Linked DNA regions of Homo sapiens: region 2 is linked to region 1. The links come from fine-mapping of genetic effects on gene expression. Tissue or cell type: whole blood. Region 1 holds a variant in brackets; the other region holds the start of a gene. All regions are shown on one strand. Distances are from middle to middle. Region 1 holds the start of XPC-AS1 (XPC antisense RNA 1). Region 2 holds the start of TMEM43 (transmembrane protein 43).

The links. PIP is the estimated chance that this variant, and not a neighbour inherited with it, causes the effect.
Region 2: TMEM43 starts here. The variant in region 1 is fine-mapped to the expression of TMEM43 in whole blood (TOPMed, PIP above 0.99).

Annotation. Positions count from the first base shown.
Region 1 is chr3:14,141,904-14,153,442 of GRCh38, forward strand. It overlaps TMEM43 (transmembrane protein 43), which reads left to right. Exons shown (of 12, transcript NM_024334.3): 12 at 1-1,777. XPC (XPC complex subunit, DNA damage recognition and repair factor) reads right to left here. Exons shown (of 16, transcript NM_004628.5): 11 at 10,432-10,513; 12 at 6,911-7,045; 13 at 6,659-6,828; 14 at 6,005-6,098; 15 at 5,387-5,476; 16 at 3,244-4,256. The coding sequence ends at 4,038. It overlaps XPC-AS1 (XPC antisense RNA 1), which reads left to right and starts at 7,659. Exons shown (of 2, transcript XR_001740603.2): 1 at 7,659-7,699; 2 at 7,939-11,539. RefSeq lists enhancers at 1,844-2,531, 2,877-2,986, 6,650-7,334, 8,952-9,452 and a silencer at 1,926-2,220. The variant T/C (reference allele first, on the strand shown) is at 3,420.
Region 2 is chr3:14,119,940-14,131,478 of GRCh38, forward strand. TMEM43 (transmembrane protein 43) reads left to right here and starts at 5,113. Exons shown (of 12, transcript NM_024334.3): 1 at 5,113-5,266; 2 at 9,473-9,622; 3 at 10,883-11,017. The coding sequence starts at 5,255. CHCHD4 (coiled-coil-helix-coiled-coil-helix domain containing 4) reads right to left here and starts at 4,931. Exons shown (of 3, transcript NM_001098502.2): 1 at 4,716-4,931. The coding sequence starts at 4,737. RefSeq lists enhancers at 1,614-2,348, 2,349-3,084, 3,688-3,787, 4,556-5,290, 5,158-5,357 and 2 more and silencers at 4,348-4,397, 4,408-4,967.

The DNA.
Region 1 (11,539 bases):
CTGCACTCCCTCTCCTCTTCAGGGGCCAGACTTGGCAGCATGTGCACCAGGTTGGTGTTCACCAGCTCATGTCTTCCCCACATCTCTTCTTGCCAGTAAGCAGCTTTGGTGGGCAGCAGCAGCTCATGAATGGCAAGCTGACAGCTTCTCCTGCTGTTTCCTTCCTCTCTTGGACTGAGTGGGTACGGCCAGCCACTCAGCCCATTGGCAGCTGACAACGCAGACACGCTCTACGGAGGCCTGCTGATAAAGGGCTCAGCCTTGCCGTGTGCTGCTTCTCATCACTGCACACAAGTGCCATGCTTTGCCACCACCACCAAGCACATCTGTGATCCTGAAGGGCGGCCGTTAGTCATTACTGCTGAGTCCTGGGTCACCAGCAGACACACTGGGCATGGACCCCTCAAAGCAGGCACACCCAAAACACAAGTCTGTGGCTAGAACCTGATGTGGTGTTTAAAAGAGAAGAAACACTGAAGATGTCCTGAGGAGAAAAGCTGGACATATACTGGGCTTCACACTTATCTTATGGCTTGGCAGAATCTTTGTAGTGTGTGGGATCTCTGAAGGCCCTATTTAAGTTTTTCTTCGTTACTTTGCTGCTTCATGTGTACTTTCCTACCCCAAGAGGAAGTTTTCTGAAATAAGATTTAAAAACAAAACAAAAAAAACACTTAATATTTCAGACTGTTACAGGAAACACCCTTTAGTCTGTCAGTTGAATTCAGAGCACTGAAAGGTGTTAAATTGGGGTATGTGGTTTGATTGATAAAAAGTTACCTCTCAGTATTTTGTGTCACTGAGAAGCTTTACAATGGATGCTTTTGAAACAAGTATCAGCAAAAGGATTTGTTTTCACTCTGGGAGGAGAGGGTGGAGAAAGCACTTGCTTTCATCCTCTGGCATCGGAAACTCCCCTATGCACTTGAAGATGGTTTAAAAGATTAAAGAAACGATTAAGAGAAAAGGTTGGAAGCTTTATACTAAATGGGCTCCTTCATGGTGACGCCCCGTCAACCACAATCAAGAACTGAGGCCTGAGGCTGGTTGTACAATGCCCACGCCTGCCTGGCTGCTTTCACCTGGGAGTGCTTTCGATGTGGGCACCTGGGCTTCCTAGGGCTGCTTCTGAGTGGTTCTTTCACGTGTTGTGTCCATAGCTTTAGTCTTCCTAAATAAGATCCACCCACACCTAAGTCACAGAATTTCTAAGTTCCCCAACTACTCTCACACCCTTTTAAAGATAAAGTATGTTGTAACCAGGATGTCTTAAATGATTCTTTGTGTACCTTTTCTGTCATATTCAGAAACCGTTTTGTGCCTGCTGGGAGTAATTCCTTTAGCAATTAAGTATTTGGTAGCTGAATAAGGGGTCAGAACTTCTGAAACCAGAGATCTGTAATCATCTCTATTGGCCTGGGGTGCCTGTGCTATAAATGAGTTTCTTCACATGAAAAACACAGCCAGCCCAAGATGACTTATCTGGGTTTAGGATTCAATAGTATTCACTAACTGCTTATTACATGAGCAATTTCATCAAATCTCCAAACTCTTAAAGGATGCTTTCGGAAAACACGCTGTATACCTAGATGATGACTAAATGCAAAATCCTTGGGCTTTGGTTTTTTTCTAGTAAGGATTTTAAATAACTGCCGACTTCAAAAGTGTTCTTAAAACGAAAGATAATGTTAAGAAAAATTTGAAAGCTTTGGAAAACCAAATTTGTAATATCATTGTATTTTTTATTAAAAGTTTTGTAATAAATTTCTAAATTATCTTCTGGTGTGGGACTTTAACAAACATCCTATTTTTAGTTTCAGATTTTTTTTTTTTGGCATTCTTTCCAAAATGTCTGTAAAGAATTCAGCCATAGGATTTATTGAGAACTGAATTTTGTGGAAATCTGAGCTTTCAGTGCTTAAAATAAGTTAATTTTTTTTTAAGGGCAACTCAGTATCTAGCACTCAGAAGTCCACACTGAAGCCCACTTTGTTTTGGCTTGATTTAAAGTGAATGACTCAGGCTTCATGCATCTTCAGAATGTGCTAGAAAAAGTGGAAGGGGCAGCAGTGTGCTCCACTGCCAGAGGCATCCTGAGTTGACACGGGAGACCTGAGTTCTGAGCCAAAGATTGCTACATACTGGCTGTGATGTTGGGTAAATCAACGATTTGAGTCTGTTCCCTCATCAGTACAATGGGAATAACACTTGTCCACCTCACAAAGTTGTTGTGAGGGCCAAATGAGACAAAGCCCATAGAATGCCTGACACATGAGGCATTAATTTTTCATTCATTTTGCTTCCTGTTCTGAAAGGCGGCTGCTAACTGCCCACTCTGATGCTAGCAGTTTGCTTTATTTTTTACAAGCACGTGAGTGAGAACTTTCCCAAACCTACTCTTCTGTTTCTCAGAACCTACTGTTTCATTTAAATAATGCCTCCTTGTAGCTGACATATGCCTGAAGAAGTTATTTCTGCAGAGACATGGCAATGCCATCATCTCAAAACCCCAGAAAGACAAGCGTGGTGGTGCATACCCATGGTCCCAGCTACTCAGGAGGCTGAGAGGATTGCTTGAGGCTGCAGTCAGCTGGGATCACACCACTAGCTGGGATCACACCACTGCACCCCAGCCTGGGCAAGAGTGGAACCCTCCCTGTCTCAAAAAATAATTTAAAAAAAAAAATAACAGAAAACAAGTTGCCTCTATAGGAGGGCCGAGCTCTGGTGAGGAAGTGTGAGACCAGTTTCCATAGCAACCCCAGTCTGTTTCTCAACAAGAGGTTCCAGCCAGCCTCTTGCCACATATGAGTCATAACTCAAGTGTTTTGTTTGTTTCCCTTGGATAAAAGTGACTCCGATTTTTAATGGCTCCTCTCAAAGATTAACATCTCTTCACTAAATACAGAAGAATTCCATATGTAATGAATTTCCAGCCTCCATGAAAACAAAATGGACTCTTTCATGCTGTCTCAACATATGAATACATTGCTCTGTCACCTGGGTGTTATTACCGACTTAAATCTGAAAGAAGCTGGGCACGGCAGTGGTGTGTGGGTGCCTGCAGTCCTGAGGAGCTGGGACTGTTTCCCGAACAATGCCTTTCCACCACACACGGTGGTTGTGAGGGCCAGCTGAGGCAAAGCCCTCAGGAAGACCACTCAAGCCCAGGAGTCCAGCCTGCGCAAGACAGTAAGACCCCTTAAAAAAAAAAAAATCTGAAAGAAAATATAGAGCCAAATCTTTAGATAAATGCTTTATTATTTTCTCAAAATGTTATAAAAGTCATTTCTCCTTAGTACAGAGAGCTTTATACATTTTATCTAGTAATGAATACAATCTAGTTTAACACTCATCTATTTTACTAACATTTCCTTAATTTTCAATTCGTATTTTTCCTTTTCTTTCCTGATTTTAGC[T/C]TTTTTTAGGCTTCTGTCACCACAAAATGTTACTTGGAAAACTAGATCCCAGCAGATGACCTGTACTTCTCTGCTCTCTCCCCTACTGCAAAGAGGCAGTGAGGGCAGCATTAGTAAGCCTGACTCAGGGGAAGGTAAGTGGCCTGCAGAGAAATGGTCCTAGGTCCGCAACCGAGGCGAGTGAACTTGTCGGACAGATGAAGACTCTAACTGGAAGAAACGATCAGCGCATTCACGGATGCACCACCATCCAGAAATCTCCCGGTGGCTTCCATACAAAAACTGATGTTTCTAAAGATGGAAAGAACAGGTCTAGGAGGCAGAAGAGTATCTCCTAGCAAAGTGTTCTGTAGCTCAAAGGGTGAGTGGGCTTTGGTAGCAAAAAGCTTTGAAGGCTTCACCCTGGGTGAATCTGACAAGGGCTGGAGCCAGACGGGACCTGCAGCACCTCCTCAGCTTGGCCTCGTCTCCCCTGACCCCGCCTCCGTGCATGCTGCCTCAGTTTGCCTTCTCAGCAGAGAAGCCCCCACCACCAGGGGCTGGGCATGCCCAGGGCAGGTGTGGGGCCTGTAGTGGGGCAGCAGCAACTGGTGGGTGCCCCTCTAGTGGGCGCTCAGCTCACAGCTGCTCAAATGGGAACAGGTGGGAAGCTGCTGCTTTCTTTTCCCTTTTGGTCTTCTTGGGCCCACCCTTCAGCTTCTGCTTTTCTTCATCTTCTCGGTTTTGAGGCCAGGAGGCAGCCAGTATCCTGGCCGCTTCTGCTTGAGAGCTGGTCCCCTCCTCTTCATCAGAAGAGAGTCCACCTCCTGCATCTGTGTGGGGAGCTGCTGCCTCACTCTGGACAGGTGGCAGTGGTGGGAGGACACAGGCGAGGGTTAGTAATCAGATACCAGGAAGCCCCATGAAGAGGCAGCAAGTTCCCAGCCTGCCCTAAGCTGTGTAACTCTGGGAGGACAAGGGCATGGGACAGGGCAGGGAGAGAGCCCAGACCCTTCTTACTGAGCCGTCCCAGCCTGGGGTGCATCCAAGCAGACACTGGAGCACCTGCTACGAGCTGAGTGCAGGGGAACACAAGGATGATGGCTGGGCAGGAAGCTGCCCTCTAGGAGCACACTGCCTCATCTGGGGATGCCTGTGATTCGTGCCTTGCATTTGCTACCTCATTTCTGGACCAAAGCACATGATGTCTTGAACGGGCAAGATGCACAGTTCAGCCCTCGGAGCCCTAAGATCTGAGGCGGCACTCCCTGCCAGCTGGGATGGCTAGGGAGGGTTTGGATGGAGAAGGCGGCAAGGAGCTGGTCAGAACATAAAGTCAGATGAAGGGCTTTTCTCCACCAGAGGGACTGGAATGAGGAGCGTGACAAAAAAATGTTGAAAGGCAAACAGGCAGCACAGAGGGTTGGAGAGAGGGAACAAAACATGCCAGAGCAGTTTCTGCTGTGTCTGACACAGCACTGACTATACCATGTAACTGGGCCTAGGGTCCATCTGCCCCAGGGAGGGGCCCCCTTGAGGGCTGCATGTCAAATTCACACCTGTGTCCAAGCCTGGCCTGGCACATGGCAGGTGCTGTGAGAGAGGTACTGAGCGGGCCACTGCAGGCCTGCAGCATGGTCACAGGCACTGGGAACACTGGAAGGCGGAAGGGTGCACCAAATGCAGGACACTTGGCCCTCCCTATGTGTTCAGCGCCAAATCAGACCCATGGCATTGCTCATGTGGACAGTAGAAACGGGGACACTGGGACAGGGCTTGGGGCAGAAGAGCCAGCTGAGGCCTCACTCCAGGGACACCTTTCCCAACAAGGTAAAAACAAGCGGCCTTAGAGACAGAAGACTGAGGTGTCCTAACACAAAGCTATCCCTGACTTGAGGCTGGGGCAGAATCTGGGCCAGGCCTTTCTGAGCTGCATCTCCAAGAAACTGACCCTGAGCTTGTCTTCTCTGCAAAGAACCTGCACTGACCTTGGGCCCGTAGCGACGCTTCAGCCTCTCCCTGATGAGCAGACCTTTGGCCAGCAACTTCCAGTTCCCTAGAGCCCGCTTCTCCTTTTTCTGCAGGCAAAAATGAAGTGGGAGAAAAGTGTTAAGCACTGACATTTTCAGGAAAAATATTAAGATGGAAACTGTGAATGTAAAGACAGATATATACACCACTTTAGAATATAGCCTCTCCTTCACACCAAGTCTCACTTCCAAAAAATTGATCTGATTTACAAAGTGATATACTATACCTGAAAGCCACAAAAACAGATAACTTTTTAATCGTTACTGACTCCAAAATCTTTAGTGGGTGAGGTCTTCCAGAACCTGGACACAGGCAATTCAAGACAGAGGCAGGTGTGGGCAGCAGGGGCAGTAGACCCCAGAGCCCGGACCCAGGCTCCTCAGGGACAGTGATAGTCTGCGGGGTGGGCAGGAGCCTGCTGTATTCAGTGCTCGCTCCCTCGGGTGCCTGCCATGATGTCAGAGAGGGCTGGGAAGAGCCTGGGAGCACACGGAGGCGGCCTGGGGAAGGAAGAGGCCACCCGCTGAGTGTTGCTTCCCGCTTCTGCTGTCCCTCAGTCCTGCATATGCGCTTACCTCCTTCTCCTTCCTTTCAATGACTGCCTGCTCATTTTCCCAGGCAGTCAGGAGCACGTCTTTGAATTCCTCGCAGACGATGTATCCATCAGTCCTGTGGGGACACAACGCGATGTCAACCCTCGAACCTGCTGCCTGCTCTGCCTCTCCTCCCTCCCCAGTTTGTGGAAGACAGTGGGCCACATCTGAGCACTAGGGGTCCTGAAGGATGTCGCGGGTCAGCCAGTGTCCCACATCCTCCGTGCAGAAGGCAGGCCTGTGGAAGCTGGCACTGCCTCTTCCTCCCCAGATTCTGCCGAAGAAAGCTGGGGTGAAAGCCCCTATCCAGCCTCACCCATCATGGAACAGAGCTCACTAACCAGGCAGCTGCCGGGGAAAGATGCTGACTGTTTTTTGCTCACTAGCCTGTGAGTCCCTAAACCTGGGAAGAACGTTTTAATCCAGCATTACGATGCCAGTTTCATTGGCTCCGTTCCCTCTGGAGGGAAGCCAGAATTGGTAAAGCACTGACTTTGCAAATCCAGTGTAACATCCTGAAAATTGGAGCCACCAGGCCTCAACTCCCAGCAGCCCCATGCCAGCTTTCCATCCCCATCTCTGGAGCCACCCCTCCCCATCCCTGTGTTTAGCCTCCATCGAAGGCCCCTCACGCACACGGGATGGGAGTAGCCGCCATGGAAATCAAAGCCAGTGATGGCCTGGACACAGTCGATGTCCAGCTTGCGGGCCACGCGGTGTAGATTGGGCAGGTTCAGCTGGACACAGCCAATAGGCATCATGCTGGGCAGGAAGAGGTACACATTCCCAAACTCGTTCCGGGGCACCTGTGTCGGGTGAGCAAGTCAGCATTTGGCCAGCAGGGGAACAAGGCGGCCTGGTCCTGAGCCCTTCTGATGCTGCCCTTACCTTCCCGTCCACGGCCACTGGGGGCTGATACTCCTCTGTCTGCCAGTAGCCAAACAGGCCCAGGTCATTTTCTTCCCGCAGCTGGGGCTCAGCAAGTCGGGCTTTCCGAGCACGGTTAGAAAAGCCTTTCACCATCTGCACCAGAGGACACGGCCACCGTTTACAACAAAGGCATCCAGTTCCTCAGCACCGGGCCAGGCACCATGCTCAGTGCCGCATGCCTGGTACCTGGTGAACCCTCAGAACACACCTACCAGCTGGGGTGCTTTTTCTCCCTTTTTTTTTTTTGAGACAGAGTCTCGCTCTGTCGCCCAGGCTGGAGTACAGTGGTGCAATCTTGGCTCGCTGCAACCTCTGCCTCCTGGGTTTAAGCAATTCTCCTGCCTCAGCCTCCTGAGTAGCTGGGATTACAGGTGCCTGCCACCACGCCCGGCTAATTTTTGTATTTTTAGTAGAGACGGGGGTTTCACCATGTTGGCCAGGCTGGTCTCGAACTCCTGACCTCAGGTGATGCACTCGCCTCAACCTCCCAAAGGGCTGGGATTACAGGCGTGAGCCACCGTGCCCGGCTGCTCCCCTTTTCTTACTACAAGCACTAGCTAACATTTATGGAACATTCTCTGTCCCAGACACTATTCTCGGTGTTTTTTGTTTTTTTATCCCCCTGAGACGGAGTCTCACTCTGTTGCCCAGGCTGGAGTGCCCTGGTGTGATCTCAGCTCACTACAACCTCCACCTCCCGGATTCAAGTGATTCTCGTGCCTGTCTCCTGAGTAGCTGGGACTACAGGTACCCGCCACCATGCCCAGCTAATTTTTATATTTTTGGTAGAGATGGGGTGTCACCATATTGGCCTGGCTGGTCTCAAACTTCTGACCTCAAATGATCCACCTGCCTTGGCCTCCGAAAGTGCTGGAATTACAGGCATGAGCCACTGCGCCCAGCCTATCTTCAGTGCTTTATATGTTATTATTTAATTTTTTCAACAAACCCACAAGGTAGGTCTTATTATTGTTTCCATTTTACAGATGAACACCACAGACGGGGTAAATGATTTGCCTAAAGTCACACAGCTCGTAAGGGCCAGAGCCCACACTTTCATCCACTAGCCTATATTCTGTGCTGTCATCACTGATAGCAGTGACTGAGACTGAGAGACAAAGTCACTTAAGAGCTGATGGCTGGTAAGTGACAAGAACCAGGATTTACAATTCAGGTAACTGTCCATCAGTAGAGCCTGTGTCTCAACATATAACCTATGTCTGCTCACACGCCCTAGAAAGCACTGACAGTTCAGGACTCCCAGTGTGCTCCCCAACAGCGTGCAGTGGCCAAGGCCAAGATCTTCCCTGGGGAGTGAAGTGGTGAGAGGGGCGCAGGACAGGCAAGGACAGAGTCACGTAACTCTTAGAGGAGTCAGGCATGGGCGTGCGGCTGAGGGCTGGCCCCTGGGCCTCAGCATACAGACTTCCTCTAGTGCAGGGGCCCACAAGCTTGTTCTGTAAAGGGTCATGCGTGGCCTCCATCACATATTCTTTATTCTTCTCATTCTTATAACCCTTTAAAAATGTGAAAAGCCATTCCCCAGGTTGGGGGTGGCCTGCGAGCTCTCATGTCCATTCCTGCCATGATCTCTGGGCGCACCCTCTCTGTCACCACTTCAGGGACAGAGGGACTCTGAGTTCTGACAACCGTCCCTTTCTGAGAAGCCATTCACCCAGCACACTGTTCAGTAAACTTCCACTGGGATCTCCTGGAGACCAGGCCATGACCCAGTCATGAAGGAGGGATGGAGCGAGGACAGTCTTTGCTCTTAGGAGCTCAGGCTCCTGCAGGGGAAGAGACAGAGCTACGACTCAGCGTGATGAGTACAGGGTGGAACAGGAGCTCAGAGGCAAGCCATTGCCCAGCCCTGAGGACAGTGGAGGCAAGAAAGGCTGCTCAAAACAGGTCCCGCCTGAGCAGAGGCTTAAAGGGGCAAGGGGTTGCCCAAGAGAACAGGGCTGGACCCCACAGGGCACAGAGGTGGGAGAACACTGGGACCTGGGGCCTAAGTCCTCTGGAATGCAGAGGCAGTGAGCACCAGAACATCACTGTGCACCATGGGGAGGGTGCGGGACTCAGACTAAAGGCGCTGGCCAAGGTGGGACAAGGATGGCCAAGATGCACAGAAAGAGCCTAGTGACTGACAGGGGAATGGATTCAGGCTGGGAAGGAGGCTGTGGCTGTTGCCCAAGCAAAAGATACTGAGGCAGGAGCTGGGGTGGTGGGGATCAGAACAAGGGGTGAATTTGAGAGATTTGGGATTCCAGAACTGTGCTACCATGACAGCCACCAGTCACGTGTGGCCACTGCACACCTGAAACGTGGCTGGTCTGAACTAAGGTACAGAAAGTCAAATACACAGAAGATTAGAGAGACTTAGGAACAAAATGGATTTAAATATCTCATCAACACTTTAAAATATTTCTTACTGCTGAAATAGTATTTTAGATATATCTGGATATATTTTAATGTTAAAATTCCACCTGTTTTTGGTTTTTAATGTAGCTACTAAAAAATTTAAATGTGTGGCTCACGTTACATTTCAACTGAACACTGCTATGCTGGTTCCAGCACAAAAGACAGGTGAGATGGTGCAGAGAAAATCCTCAGCAACCCTGCAGGCCCAGGCAGGGGGCATCGCCCACTCCAGCCTGCTGCTGGCAGTGACTGTGACCAGCGCCTGCAGCCTTTCCCACTAAGCGGAGGCCCCTCCACTCCCCACTCAGCTTCCCGGAGTCTTGCAACCCCCAAGGACTCCTGGGGTCTGATGAGAAGTAAATGGTCTCTGTGATCAGCCACTGTACACTTCCGGTCGTACGGAGCTGTGTGTCCTGTGAATAGTCTCTGTGGGACCTCGCTCGGTTCGTGTTCCTCAAGAGCAACCAGCCTAACAGTGCCGCAGCACAGTGTGAAAGGAGCACTGGCTTTAAGGCAGAGCCTGGGATTCTCACCTGGGCTCTGCTCTGCCATTTTACTAACTGTGGGGACTTGGACAAGTCACTTGCCCTGAGCTTCAGTTTTCTCATCTGTAAAATGGGCATCATAATGCCAATTCCTATGGCTTTTGAGGCAACAGAGATCACATACATGCAAAATGCTCAGTGAACTGCCAAACAGAAGGGCAATCTGACTGGAGAACGTGCTGCTATAAAGCAGGGCTCTGACCTCCCAGGACCCAGTAACTCAATTCCAACCTGTAGAACCTTTGAATTCACAACAGGAGTCTGAGGCCTACTTTTTGGCCTAGATTTCTTTTGTGTTTTGGAAGATCCATTTCTTACAAATGTCTTATTAATAAGACAATTTAAATGTTTCTCTCCTCCTTGAATCCTGCTCAAGCCGGGAAAGTGAGACATTTCTGATCAGGATCCTGGGCAGGACTGGGAGGCTCATCATCACTTCTCTGCCCCCAGCTCTCCCGCTCAGCTACAGGCCTGTGTCACCACTCCCCACAGGGACCCCCCAGCTCCAGTTACCTTGTAGGGTACTTCTCCAAGCCTCACCACTCTTGCTTTCTTCAGCCACGTGTCCCTGGAATGCAGAGTGTGCACACAATCCCTGTGGAACCAACACAGGACACAAAGGTAACTCAGTCCACAGCCCCACTGCGGGAATGCGGGACAGTGGAGAGCGCAGCCCTGCAGGCTCCCTCCTCAGGTTCAGCCACCCTGGAGCAGGCCGAGCTCCTAGGGGGCCCAGAGAAGCTGTGCTAGGCAAACAGCCTTGAACGTGGACTGCCTGTCTTTTGGGGGATGTGTCCACTTACAAACCCTAATCTGCAGCCTTTGTGCCTTGCCTCCACCACTCCTCCCCTTCATAGGTTTTCTTCTCCTCTGCTGTCCAGAGCCTGTGAGAGCTCCAGCTGCAGACTATCAGGATGGGGTAAAGGCCGCTGTGCGCAGGCACACTCACGTTTACTACCACCACCAAGCGAACACCTGCTGAGGCTCTGATCTGCTGTTAACACCATGTGGGGGAGGGAAGTGTCCAGGAGGGGGCAGTGAACCCAAAGGAAGGCTGCAGAGAAGCCAACTATAATAAGCTAATAAGCTATCACAGAATCAAGACACCTGCACATGGAACAGTCAAATGATTCCTGCAGGCAAAGTTCCTCTGGCTTCACTCTTCCTCCCGAGCTAAGAGCTCACCAAAGCCGTGCAAATCTACTTTCCAATGAGGCTCAACCCCTCCCTTGCCAAGCCATTTTTAATAAGGCACGCCCATCTCATTAGTTTGCACCCCCTTCACTCTGTCCAGGGAGCGGCTCCAATGAGCAAGGGCACCCCATTTCCTCCTAGTGCAGGTTCAGACCCTTACCCACAGAGGAATCTGAGGCTGAATTTCAGCACAGCACAATGGATGGAGGTTGAACCTTGCCTGTGCCACTTCCTGGCTGGGCCACCTGGACAAGTCACTTTACCTTCCTGAGCCTCAGTACAGACAGTCCCCAAAGTCCAGTGGTTTGATTCAAGATTTTTCAACTTTATGATGATGCAAAAGCAATATGCACTTGGGAGAAACTGTGCCTCAAGTACCCATACAACCATTCTCTTTTTCATTTTCGGTATTCAATAAACTACATGA
Region 2 (11,539 bases), 22 kb before region 1:
AAGGATAGCATGGCCAGGAAAAGAGACAATCACAGGCTCAGAGATGTCAATAATGTTTTGGAAATGGGAGAGCTGATGGTCGAGTGCTCTCTGACTTAACCAGTGAAGAAAGCTGAACTCAAAGTGCACAAGGAGGAGGTCATCCAGAATCAACTCAGTCCCCACCCCAGAACCTTGGTCAGAGTGGGGAACTGGAGGCCCGAGGGGTTACTCTGAGTGCAGGACTTCAGGGTGGGGCTGAGAACAGAACTGAGTGAGCAGTCAGATACAAAGACACCTTCCACCCCCAGCTGTTTAGTTTTACTCTCGGTAGAGCCACCCCAACCCGTCTTTCTCTCACATCTCCAACAGCAAATTGGAATGGCTCGATCTTCAAATACATCCAGAAAGAGCTGCATCCCTCACCTCTTCGACCCCATCTCCCACCATCACTCCCTGCACTCCAGCCACGCTGGCCTCTGCTTTTACTTGAATGTGCTGAGCACATGCCTACCTCTGGCCTTTGCACAGGGTGTTCTGTCCTCCAGGAGCACCTTCCCTTCCCTCAGGTACCCTCACAGCGATTTCTCCCTGCTTTCACCTCCTGCTCAGATGCCACCGTCCCTGACCACTGCCCATCTCCCTTATCCCGCTTTATCTTTCTCCAAAGTGCTTTTCGTCACCCAACATACTATGTATGTTTACCACTTGATGCCCCCACTGGAATGTCAGCTCCTCAGAGGCAGTGATTTTTGTCTATTCTGTTCATTGCAGTATCCTGAGAGCCCAGAATAGTACCAAGGACAAAGTGGGTGTTCAATATTTGTTGAAAAAAATGAATGGAGAAACAACTCTGGATTAGGGCTTGAAGACCCAAGTGTAAGAATTAAAGAGGAGAGAAACACGAAGGGTGGCTTTTCAGTCAACAGGGACAGGTTTATTTTAAACAAACCTGAGAGGGGCTGCTGGCTGAGTTAGGTCAGAGCCACACTCTCTTACAGACTAAGAGTTTTTAAGGATTCAGGGTGGGAGAGCTTATCAGTGGCTTGGACTGCTTCTGTGTCTCTTTGTTGTGCTTATCTGGGAGGCAGACTGGTGTGTCTGTTTCCATACATCTTTCTGCAGCTGCAGGCATATCCCCCCAAGACTGCTTTTAGCTTCCCTATCTTAGTACACCTGAAGGGAAAGGAATGTGCTTATTAAGGCCCACAGTTTTACTGGGGCCCATTGTATGAGGGTGAAGTTTGGCAGTCACCCAAGAGACTTTCCCCCCACCTCCCTCTGTGTCCCAGCTGTCTTGTCTGTGTTTTACTGTCTGCTCTTTCTGGCTGCTTGTAGTTAGAAGAGAAGTGACTTCCTTGAAATGCATGAGGCTAGAAAGGGAGCTGGAACTTAATGTGCCAGTGTTTGTCCGAGATGACGCTACTCCTGCTCTGTCACCCAGTCCCAGCAGAAAGCAGGAAGACAGAATGGTTATCACCATTAAGTGAGTGAGACCAAAAAATCCCTTGGATGAGTAGTTTGATTTCCCCCATGAAAGGGGAGGATCTTTATACACCAGAATCTCTCAGCTCATCCACCCCAGAAGGAATGCCCCTGTGTCCTGCAGAGGAAGCAGTTTATTGTCTCCCATGGATGCTGACTCCCCAGGGTCATGTTTGAGAATGGCAACCTGCACTAAGGACTTATTTTCTTTCGTTTTTGGCTAAGTTGATTCAATACACCTGTGATACAATTCCAACCACTACTTTCTGAAGCTCAACCCAAGAAAGAGATCTAAAGCCAGAGGGAGTGGTGCCTGTGGTGTATTTTGAGTGAGGTAAGGGGTTTCTAAGAGTTTGATAAATCTGACTGCTAAGGACTTTCATGTTTAGAATCTAACCCCTTTGAAAGATACAACTCCCCCATACAGAATCAAGTGTCTGTGAAGAATACACAAATGGCTTTCAGACAGAGTGTTAAGAAGAATGCAAGTGTTAGAAGTTTAGCTCAACAAACCTTCCTCAGCTCCAGCTCTGTGGTAGTACCTGGTGGTCACAGATGAATACGACACAGGCATCCAGTGGAGAAGACGGAAGGGGAGGGATCCTACCTTTGTCCCTGACAAAGAGCTTCAGGGAGGGAAGGAGGGGAATAGACATTCCAGAAGGAACCATCCTGGGCAAAGCCTGGAGGGCAAAAGGAGGGTTTTAAGTAGTGTTCGCTCACACGTGTTTAGGATTGCAAAAGGTTTTCTTAAGAAAGTGGCATTTAAAAGGATGTCTGAAGCCTCAGGAAGCCTTCTCAGACCCCATAGAGCCTTTCACTAAACGATCATAGCATGCTGGGCTTTTCCTTCATGTCACCTATGACAGTCTGTAATCATGCATTTGTCTGGTGATGTTTTAATGGCAATCTGTTCCACCATGCCAGGAGGGCAGAGAATGTGTCACCTTGCTCACCACTATATGCCCAATGGCTGGCACATCACGTGTGCTCTATAATTGTTGACTGAACAGGAGTTGGCAGGCTCTGCATTAGAAAGAGGAAACTAAGAAAGAAACACTATGGTGCTGACACAGGAGAAGTGTGGCTAGCCCAAGGCCCAGGTGCGAGGCTGAGAGCCCTTGAATGCCAAACCAACGAGTTTAACCTGAAGGCTGGGTAGCAGGTGGACCCCTGAAATAAACTTGTACAGGCAAGTGATTCACTCAGAACAGAGGGCAGGTAAATGCATGATTCAATAAAGATGTGGGCACCCATTGTACACCAAGCCCTGTGCTAGATGCTGGGGATTCCACAGCCCATCTGATGCTCTCAGCTTAGTGCGAGAAGACAGGCAGGAAGTAAGATGGCAAAAAATAAAAAAGGTCATTTCAGACAGTTCAGGATGTGAAAGACACAAAGGGTCAGGAGGTGATATTGGAGCTAAATGTTAAAGGATGAGGAGTCAGCCACGGAAGAGCTGAAGGCAGGATATACCAAACCAAGGGAATAGCCAAGAGGCTAGAGGCTGGGCAGCAAAAGGGTGGGAAGAGACCAGGCTGGAAAGGCAGACAGGGCCAGATCACATAAGCTCTGATACAGTAAGCAGTTTGGGATCATTTTTTAAAAATCCTATGGGAAGCATAAAGGATCAGTGGGGGGCGGAGGGGGGGAAGTTAGGGACTTCTTACGGGGACAGTGGTATGCACAAGATAAATACTAAGGAAGGCCTATAAGTGAGTGCTTTCAATTCTCACTCCTCTCCGAACTAAGAGAGATCTTTGAAGCAGGAAAAGATAGGGCTCCATGTTTTGGAGGCAGATGGACCTAGCCTCCCCTTTCCAGAGAAAACTGCCTCCTGTAAATCCTCAAAGAGGAGGGTCTTGTTTATCAGCACAGCCTCATTATACCCAAAGGCTCAAAAATTATTTGCTAAATGAAGTAAATTAGAGAAAGACTCGAAATTAAAAACAAGAGTGGTGAGGGCAGAGGACTTTTGCTTATGGCACACATTAAGTAGTAATCAGCGGAAATATAATAGTACTCATTAAAGAGTGAGTCTTATGGCTTTACGACCCAGAGGAGGAGAGGTTCTAGAAGCAGACAGCGCCACCAGGGAAAAGGCTCAGAATTTTAGGCTGAGCTAGTCTCCTAACTGGATGTGTAACTACAGGTAGGCCACCTCCTTCTCTGGGCTTCAGATTGCTTGAATTAACTGACGGAGCTGGAGTATTCACCAAAGAATTTCTGGGGGACTTCCAACTCTCTCTGTAGTTTTATAACCATCCATCCCCCTTCTCTGGCGCAGAGAAGGTGCTTCATGAGTATTTGCCGTATCAATGAAGCCCAACATCTCATTTTACAACACTGGATACCAGGGCCTGGAGGGGTTAGGTGGGAGCTCAGGGCCAAGGAGCCAGTTTGTGGCAGTGTGTGGGGAGGCCCTCCGACCTGTGGCTCGGGTACTTCTGAGCTCTTGGGTAGAGTAACATCAAGGAAGCAGTAGGTGGTCGGAGCTCAACTTTGGGGTGGGAGGTAGGCAGGGTTCTCCCTGCAATCCACTGGGCACTAGATTGGATAAGGCTCTTCTGGGGTCACAATGCCCAGGCTCAAACCCCAGCTCCACGATTTGCTGGCTGAGTGGCTTTAGCCATGTCTCCTGTGTCTAACTTTACTCTTCAGTAAAATGTGACCAACAACAGAGCCTGACTTACAAAGGTCGCAGCGAGATCTGTGAGACAAGCCAGGCAAGTTTCCTTGAACAGTGCCTGACAGGTAGCAGGGGGCTCAAAAACATTCCCGTTAGTGGAACTCCTAGCACTCCAGCACAGCACACGCTACCCCGAGTGGCAACTTTTCGGGACGCGCCTTTTAAAGGCGCGTGCAAAATGTAAACACGTGGGGTATGGCAGGAGCGGTAGTGATAATTAACCACCATACATTCCCAGTTTCGAGCCACACGCAACGTGCTCGGCACTTCCCGTGCCCCAACCGGACCTAGTTTACGACTTCCTACGCACAGGCCCCTCTGAGGTCAGGGTTCGGGCTTCACTGTGACCTTGGACCAGCCCCGTTCCCCCCAGAGCTTCGGTTTTCTCATCCGCAAAACAGGAGTAGCGACCCCCCAGCCGGCCCGCCTCCGAGTGTCCCAGGGTGGGCACCTGGGCCGCGCCTCAGGTGGCCCGCGCCCGGCGTGGTCGCGGGGCGCCGGGGCCCGCGTGTCTCCCGCAGGCCCTCGTAGGCCGGTCTCCGTGGCAGCCCGCCCTCCCTACCTTCCTGCCGGCAATAGGACATGGCTGCAGCCCGTCCCTGAGACCTTGCAGAAGCGGCGGTGGCGGCAGCTGCACCTTTACGCCGTGACCTCCCTCTCCTCTGGCAGGGCGGGCTCCTCCGAAGCCCGCGCGGACCCGCCCCCTCCCAGGCCTGCCCGCCGCGCGCCTGCCTCGGCGCCCTCGCAACCGCGGCCAGGCCAACCTCAGCCGGAAACTACATTTCCCAGCAGGTCGCGCGCTCCTCGACAGCTCTCCAGGCAGTAGAAACTACATTTCCCCGAAAGCTTTGCAGTGCGCAGGCGCATCAATGAGGTACTGCAATGTCCCGGACCGTATAGTTTCCAGGACGTCTCGCCGCGCGCATGCGCAGAAACACTGGGCACAGGGGGAGGTAACTGCAGTAAGTCCCGCTTGGCCCTGGAGTCCACGCGGATTTTCGAAGCTGGGGCTGGCAAGAGGCCGCTGGACACCACGCTCCAGTCGTCAGCCCACTTCCTAGCTGAACAGCGCGAGGCGGCGGCAGCGAGCCGGGTCCCACCATGGCCGCGAATGTGAGTATCCCCGGGCCAGCCGGGCCACACCCAGGCTTCCCCGTCGCCCTGGGGCTTTTCCCCGGGGTCCTCTAGGTCCATTTCGCCGCCTGGAGCTCCTCCGTGCGGCTAGGCCCGCATCTCCCTCTGCTCGCCGTGTCTGTGCCTTCGCCAGCTCATCCCTCTGCTCATCTCGCGGCCTGTCCAGGCTTCTTTTGTCCGTGTTCCTTGGCTCGCCTCGTCCTCGGCGTTCGTGCGGAGGCGGACTCGGAGGTGTTGCTCCCGTACTGGGATCTGCTTGTACGCCTCTCCGCGGCCCCTCCTTGCATTCCCAGTTCCCTCCTGTACCTTGGGGCCCTGAAACTTGCGCATTATGAGAGCTGGACGCGACCTCAGAGAGGGCGCCAGTCCCTTGGGAGGGAGGAAGGCGATCCAGCCCAAGTGGAGCTGTCCAGCAATGGACAGACAGGGCTGTCCAGGCGGGCAGAGAGCTCTCCGCCCTAGGGAGTCTCTGTAAACCGAGTCTGTGATGCTCCAAAAAGCTTAGGCTGGGCTGGGAGCGAAGGAGTTGGGGGAGAGGGAGCATTTCTCTACTGTCGGGGCCCCTCCTCCCCCTAGCAAGGATTTGGTTGGAGGAGGCCTGGCTGAGGGCTGTTCCCTCAAGGCCTCTTCTCCCTGCAACTAGCCTTTCTCGGGAAACTATTTAAGCCCAACATTCATTCAACAAGCAGCGCCTCCTACCAGGGCGCTGGGTGTGGGAGAAGCTGGTGACTCACCTCTCCCCTCCTCTGTGAAAGTGCTTCTAGGGCCCGCTTAGGAGCCCAGCCAGCCCCAGACACACCCTCCCTCCTGCTTTGGTAGAGTGTCCTAGCAGCTCTCCCCTTGCCTGTCACACCCTATTTCCAGACACCGCCTCTGTCCCCAAGCGTCCTCTCTGCCTCCCACACCCCTTGAGAGGCCAGGGTGTGCATCACCCACAGCCCTAGTACACTTTGTCTCGGGTTAGTATCATCCACACTCCCAGGACATTTCGGGCCCACAGGAGGGTTAGAAGCCTTGAATGTTGTACCTAGAAAAGCCTCAGAGGTATTCGGAGAGACTCAGGCTCGGCCAGGCGAGAGGGCAGTCAGGAGACCAGCCTGTCTGTAGTATGTGGACTCTTTGTCTGCTCCCATCACTACCACCACCATATTTTACAGATGGGGAACTTCCCTAGCAGGGGAAGGCACTTGCCCAAGCTCTCGTGGCCGGCTTGGCATGCTGTGACACGGAAATATGCTGAAAAGGGCAGGCTTTGGAGTTAGGGAGACCTGGGGGCAATCCAGATTCTTCCACCCAGTAGCTGTGTGGCTTTCATCTCTCCAGGTTTATGTAGCCTCATGGATCAGTTACTGTGATATTTAAGGGAGACTGCTTAGCACAGTGCCTGATGTGTGGTAGGTACTTAATACTTGAAAACAAGCCTGTCCTTGCAGGGTAGCACAAATGGTCCCAGTGGATAGAGATCATCTTGGGTACATTGAGACCTGACCCCTCACCAAGGAATATACATGCATTTGAGTATTCTCTGCTGCCAAGCATTTTTTGATTCATCCAGTAGCTGAGTACACATTTACAGCAGCCACTAGGCTGGGTGAGGAAGAAGATAGCGGGATGGAGCAGGGAGGCAACAAAATTCTCAATCAGTACAGCAGCAGCAGTACCTGTGGTGAAGGTACTATTCCCCTCTCCACTTTATAAGTGAGTAAACAGAATCAGAGAGGTAGAGCAATTTACCCAGGCTTACACAGCAAGCGATTGGTGAACCTAGGCATCAAATCCAGTTCTGTCCATTTCCAGGGCCTATGTGTCAGCCTCTGTTCCCACCACTCATTGCTCATTTCTTCTAAGTCCTGAGTGCTAGGACTGGGAGGGGATGTGTCACTGGGGATGTCCGTCTGTGTGTGCGTGTGTGTGTGTGTTTATATAATGTGTGTATACATGTAATACATACTATATGTATATATAAATATGTGTGGATATATAGATCCTTTATGATCCTCCATGTTTACTGGGAATTTTGGTTCAGAATGTGGGCTGGGTTTGTCATGTCACTGCCCACCTCACCCCTCCCCTAGCCTGAGGGGCACCCTCCTGTACCTCTCTTCCTTCCCTCCAAGGCCGTCTTTGAGCCCCTTATCTTGATGCTGGCTGAGGGGAGGCCCAAGAGGAAGACACGCCTTATTTTCCTATTGCTGCCTGCAGCTGGCTCCCAACATTCAGCTCACATTGTAGCCCAAGAGATGGGGAGCACAGACTGGAATGAGTAATGGGAGAGTAGCCTCCAGTCTGCCCGGATTTGAATCCTAACTCTTCCTCTTAGAAGCTGTGTGATCTGGGAAGATGACGTAACCCTGAGCCCGATTTTCTTATCGGTGAAATGGGGTCGTTATGACATCCCGCTCTTTGGGCTTGCCTGTGGGCTGGCCTGTGATAGACCCGGTGTGTTTGCCATTGTCATCATTGTGATGGTCACCTGCCCCTATGTGGTGATTCACTCACCTAATGTTTCCAAATGGCATGGAAAGTCAAGACGACTTCTGGATTCATGGACATCTGGTCACTGGAGGCCTTGGCTGGTGGTACTCAAAGACAATCAGAATGCGACATCAGCTTTGTTCAAGCAGAGATTCTGAGTCAAATCACTCCTCTGGCCCCCAATACCAGGATGGGGCCTGTCTTAGCTGGGCCCCACTTTACATCTTTGTGACTTTTGTCAGCTCACCCCCAGCCTGGTGCCAGCCCAGTATCAGTTGTAGGGAAATCTGGTAACATTTCTACTAGCTAACACGTGTCCAGTGCTTACCACGCCCTAGGCCCTGAGCTACCCAATAACTGTGTTCTTTGGTTCTCACCACAACCCTATGCACAGAGGAAATGGAAGGCACAAAGTGGTGAAGTTGCTTGCCCAAGACCCCGTAGCTGGTATGTGGCAGAGCATAAATGCAAACCCAGTTCTTCTGGCTCCAGAATCCTGCCCTAGACGATGACACTTTTGATCAGCAGTGGATGCACCCCAAATCATGCCTCTGTTATTGACCAAAGCCTGATCCACTCACCCTTGAGTTTGAGGCCCACTGTGAACCTGCCCAGAAATGCCTACCTCCAAGCCCTTTCTTCCTCCACTGCTCCCACCCAGCCAAAGCAGACAGGCAGCTGCTCCCCCAGAACCACTTCCTACTTCCTCATCACTGCTGATACGGTTCTCCCTTTAGGGATGCTCTTCCCCTAAGATCTGCCTCTAAGATTCCACTCAAGGGAGCCTCCTTGATACCCCAGGTGGAAGGGGTCACTCCTTGAGCACCAAGTCCACCCCCATCACAGGACCCTCTGTGTGACCTTCTAGTATTGTTTATGGTTGTGACCTCACTGCCCTAAGACTGTCTACTTCTGACCCCACAAGGGCTAGCACTGCCCTCAGAAAGCTCAGCCACTGTTTGCTGAATTTAATTAAAAATACATCTCTAATAACCTCTTTGTAAAATAGCTTGGCAGTTTCATAAAAAGTTAAACGTACATCTTCTTCACGAGCCAGCAGTTGTACTCCTAGGTATATTCCTACGGGAAATGAAAGCACATGTCTGCATAAAGGTTCATGTATGAATATTCACAGCAGCATTATTCATAACAGCCAAAACCTGGAAGCTGTCAAGATACCCATCCACTGACGAATGATTCAGCACACTGTGGTATAGTCATAAATGGAATACTACTCAGCCATGAAAAGGAACAAATTCCTGATAAACACCACAACATGAATGAATTGCAAAAGCAGTGCTCTGAGTCCAAGAAGCTGGGCAGAAAGGAGTTGGTGCCCTGATTCCATTTTTCTCAAGTTGTAGAAGAAACAAACTAATCTACGGTAGGAGAAATTCAAATTCAGATTCTCCCCATCCCCACCAGTTACCTCTGGTTGGTGGAGAGGGGGAGAATTGGCAGGAAAGGGGCACAAAGAAACTTTTTGGGGTGATGGAAATATTTTGTACCTTGCTTTAGATGTTGGTCAGATGGAATATACGTTTGTGGAAACCTGCCAAACTGTACATTGAATATCTGTGTGTTTTTACCACATACAGTTAAAACTAAAAAAAAAAAAAAAAAAAAAAAAAAATTGAGTATAAATAAATAGCAAATTTAATTTATTTTTAAAAACTAGTTTTCATTCTGTTACTGTTTCTTTTTCTTCAGTATTCCAGTACCAGTACCCGGAGAGAACATGTCAAAGTTAAAACCAGCTCCCAGCCAGGCTTCCTGGAACGGCTGAGCGAGACCTCGGGTGGGATGTTTGTGGGGCTCATGGCCTTCCTGCTCTCCTTCTACCTAATTTTCACCAATGAGGTAAAATGTCTGGGGTCTTCCTGTGCAGAGTGAGAGTCCCCACCATGTCAGAGAGCAAAGGCGATGAACCCGGAGGCTGGATTTGGTAATCAAGGGCCTAGATTTTAAAAAGAGAAAGGAGGATACTGAGTTAATCACAGTTCTTTCCATTGTGATCCATCCCACAGCTGATGTGAGCAGGAAGGGGAGTAGATCAGTTCACACACCTGAATATCCAGGGGTTAGCACCTGCCTCAGGCGTAGTTGGATCCAGGTGTTCATGCTGGGTCACCAGGAATCTCCATTTCTTCATCTTTTGCCTGTTTTTCTCTATTATGGTGTTTTTCTTGGGCAGGCACTTCATCTGTGATGGCAAATGTGGCCCCAGCAACTGGCCTACATCCAACCACTTAGCCCAGGGAAGAGAAAAACCATCTGTTTCTCTTCCTTTCTTTCTTTTCCTTTCTTTCCCCTCCCTCCCTCCCTCCCTTCCTTTGTTCCTTTCTTCCTTCCTTCCTTTGTCTCTCTCTTTCTCTCTTTCTTGTTTGTTTGTTTCTTTCTTTCTCTCCCTCTCTCTTTCTTTTTCTCCTTTTTTTTAATAGGGCCTCATGATGCAACAGTATATTTCTAAATCAATTTAGCAGCAGTTACAGGGCCATCTCTCAGTGTCCTGGCTTGGCTCTCCGTCCTCTGAATCAGTCTCCGTGTCCAGGGCGCACTCACATGTTCTGACTGGCAAGGTCTGGGTCCCATAATCTGACCAGGGTTCAGATAGACTCAGGTAAACCACATGGGCTGAGTAGGAGAGAGGAGAGCCAGGCATGGAGGCTCAAGCCTGTAACCCCAGCACTTTGGGAGGCCAAGGAGGCAGGATCGCTTGAGGTCAGAAGTTCGAAAGCAGCCTGGGCAACATAGCAAGACCCCATTTCTACAAAAAACTTAAACATAAAAATAAAATTAAAAAAAAGAAGGCAGAGAAAAATGGGGAGAAAGGGACAGGCAGGCAGAAACATCAGCTGTTCCCACCACTGGGGCAGTGCTAAGATTGGTGGGGGCTAGTGGGAACCAATGGGGCAGTAGGAAGAAGTCTCCCTGGGAAAGCAGGAATCTGGGTTCCAGTCCTTACTCTCCACTTGCTAGACCTCAGTTTTCCAACTGTACGGTGGGGAGATGGGTCTCAGCGCTCCCGGAGGCCCCATCCTACCCTAATACTTTGCAACAAGCACAGTCATGCTGAGCCACCCCTGAGCTGTTGAAATCCCCACTCCCCTTTGCTCCCAGGGCCGCGCATTGAAGACGGCAACCTCATTGGCTGAGGGGCTCTCGCTTGTGGTGTCTCCCGACAGCATCCACAGTGTGGCTCCGGAGAATGAAGGAAGGCTGGTGCACATCATTGGCGCCTTACGGACATCCAAGGTAGGTTTGGCAGGGGATGCTGACCTGCCAGTGGCTCGGGGCTCATCCTGGATGTTGTCTGGCTGAGGATTTGAAAGCATGGGCCTTGGAGATGGTCACACATGGGAGTGATTCCCGACTTTACCACTCAGCAGCTGTGTGGACTTGTCTATCCTGAGTCTCAGTGTCTTCGTGTATAAAATGGGGACGGTAATGGTTACAAGCTTGTGGCCAGCCTTGAGGATTTGGTGAGATTAGGTAACTAACGCCTTGGTACAGTGGCTGGCACTCAGGGAGGTGCTCTCATGACTCTGATGACCATGTGTGTCCAGTGCAAGGCCACAAAACTACCCTGGGCACCAGAGCTTTCCTGTTATTTGAACACCCTGTACGCTGTTGGCACCATGCCATTGGGCCATGCAGCCCAGGCCTGTACTGTGAGGGTCACAGTCACAGGCACTGTGTGTAAAGAACCTGGGACAGGGAGTGTCCTCGATTCTCCCCTGCAAAGCAGTGTAGGGCTCTCCACCCTTGTCCCCTTCT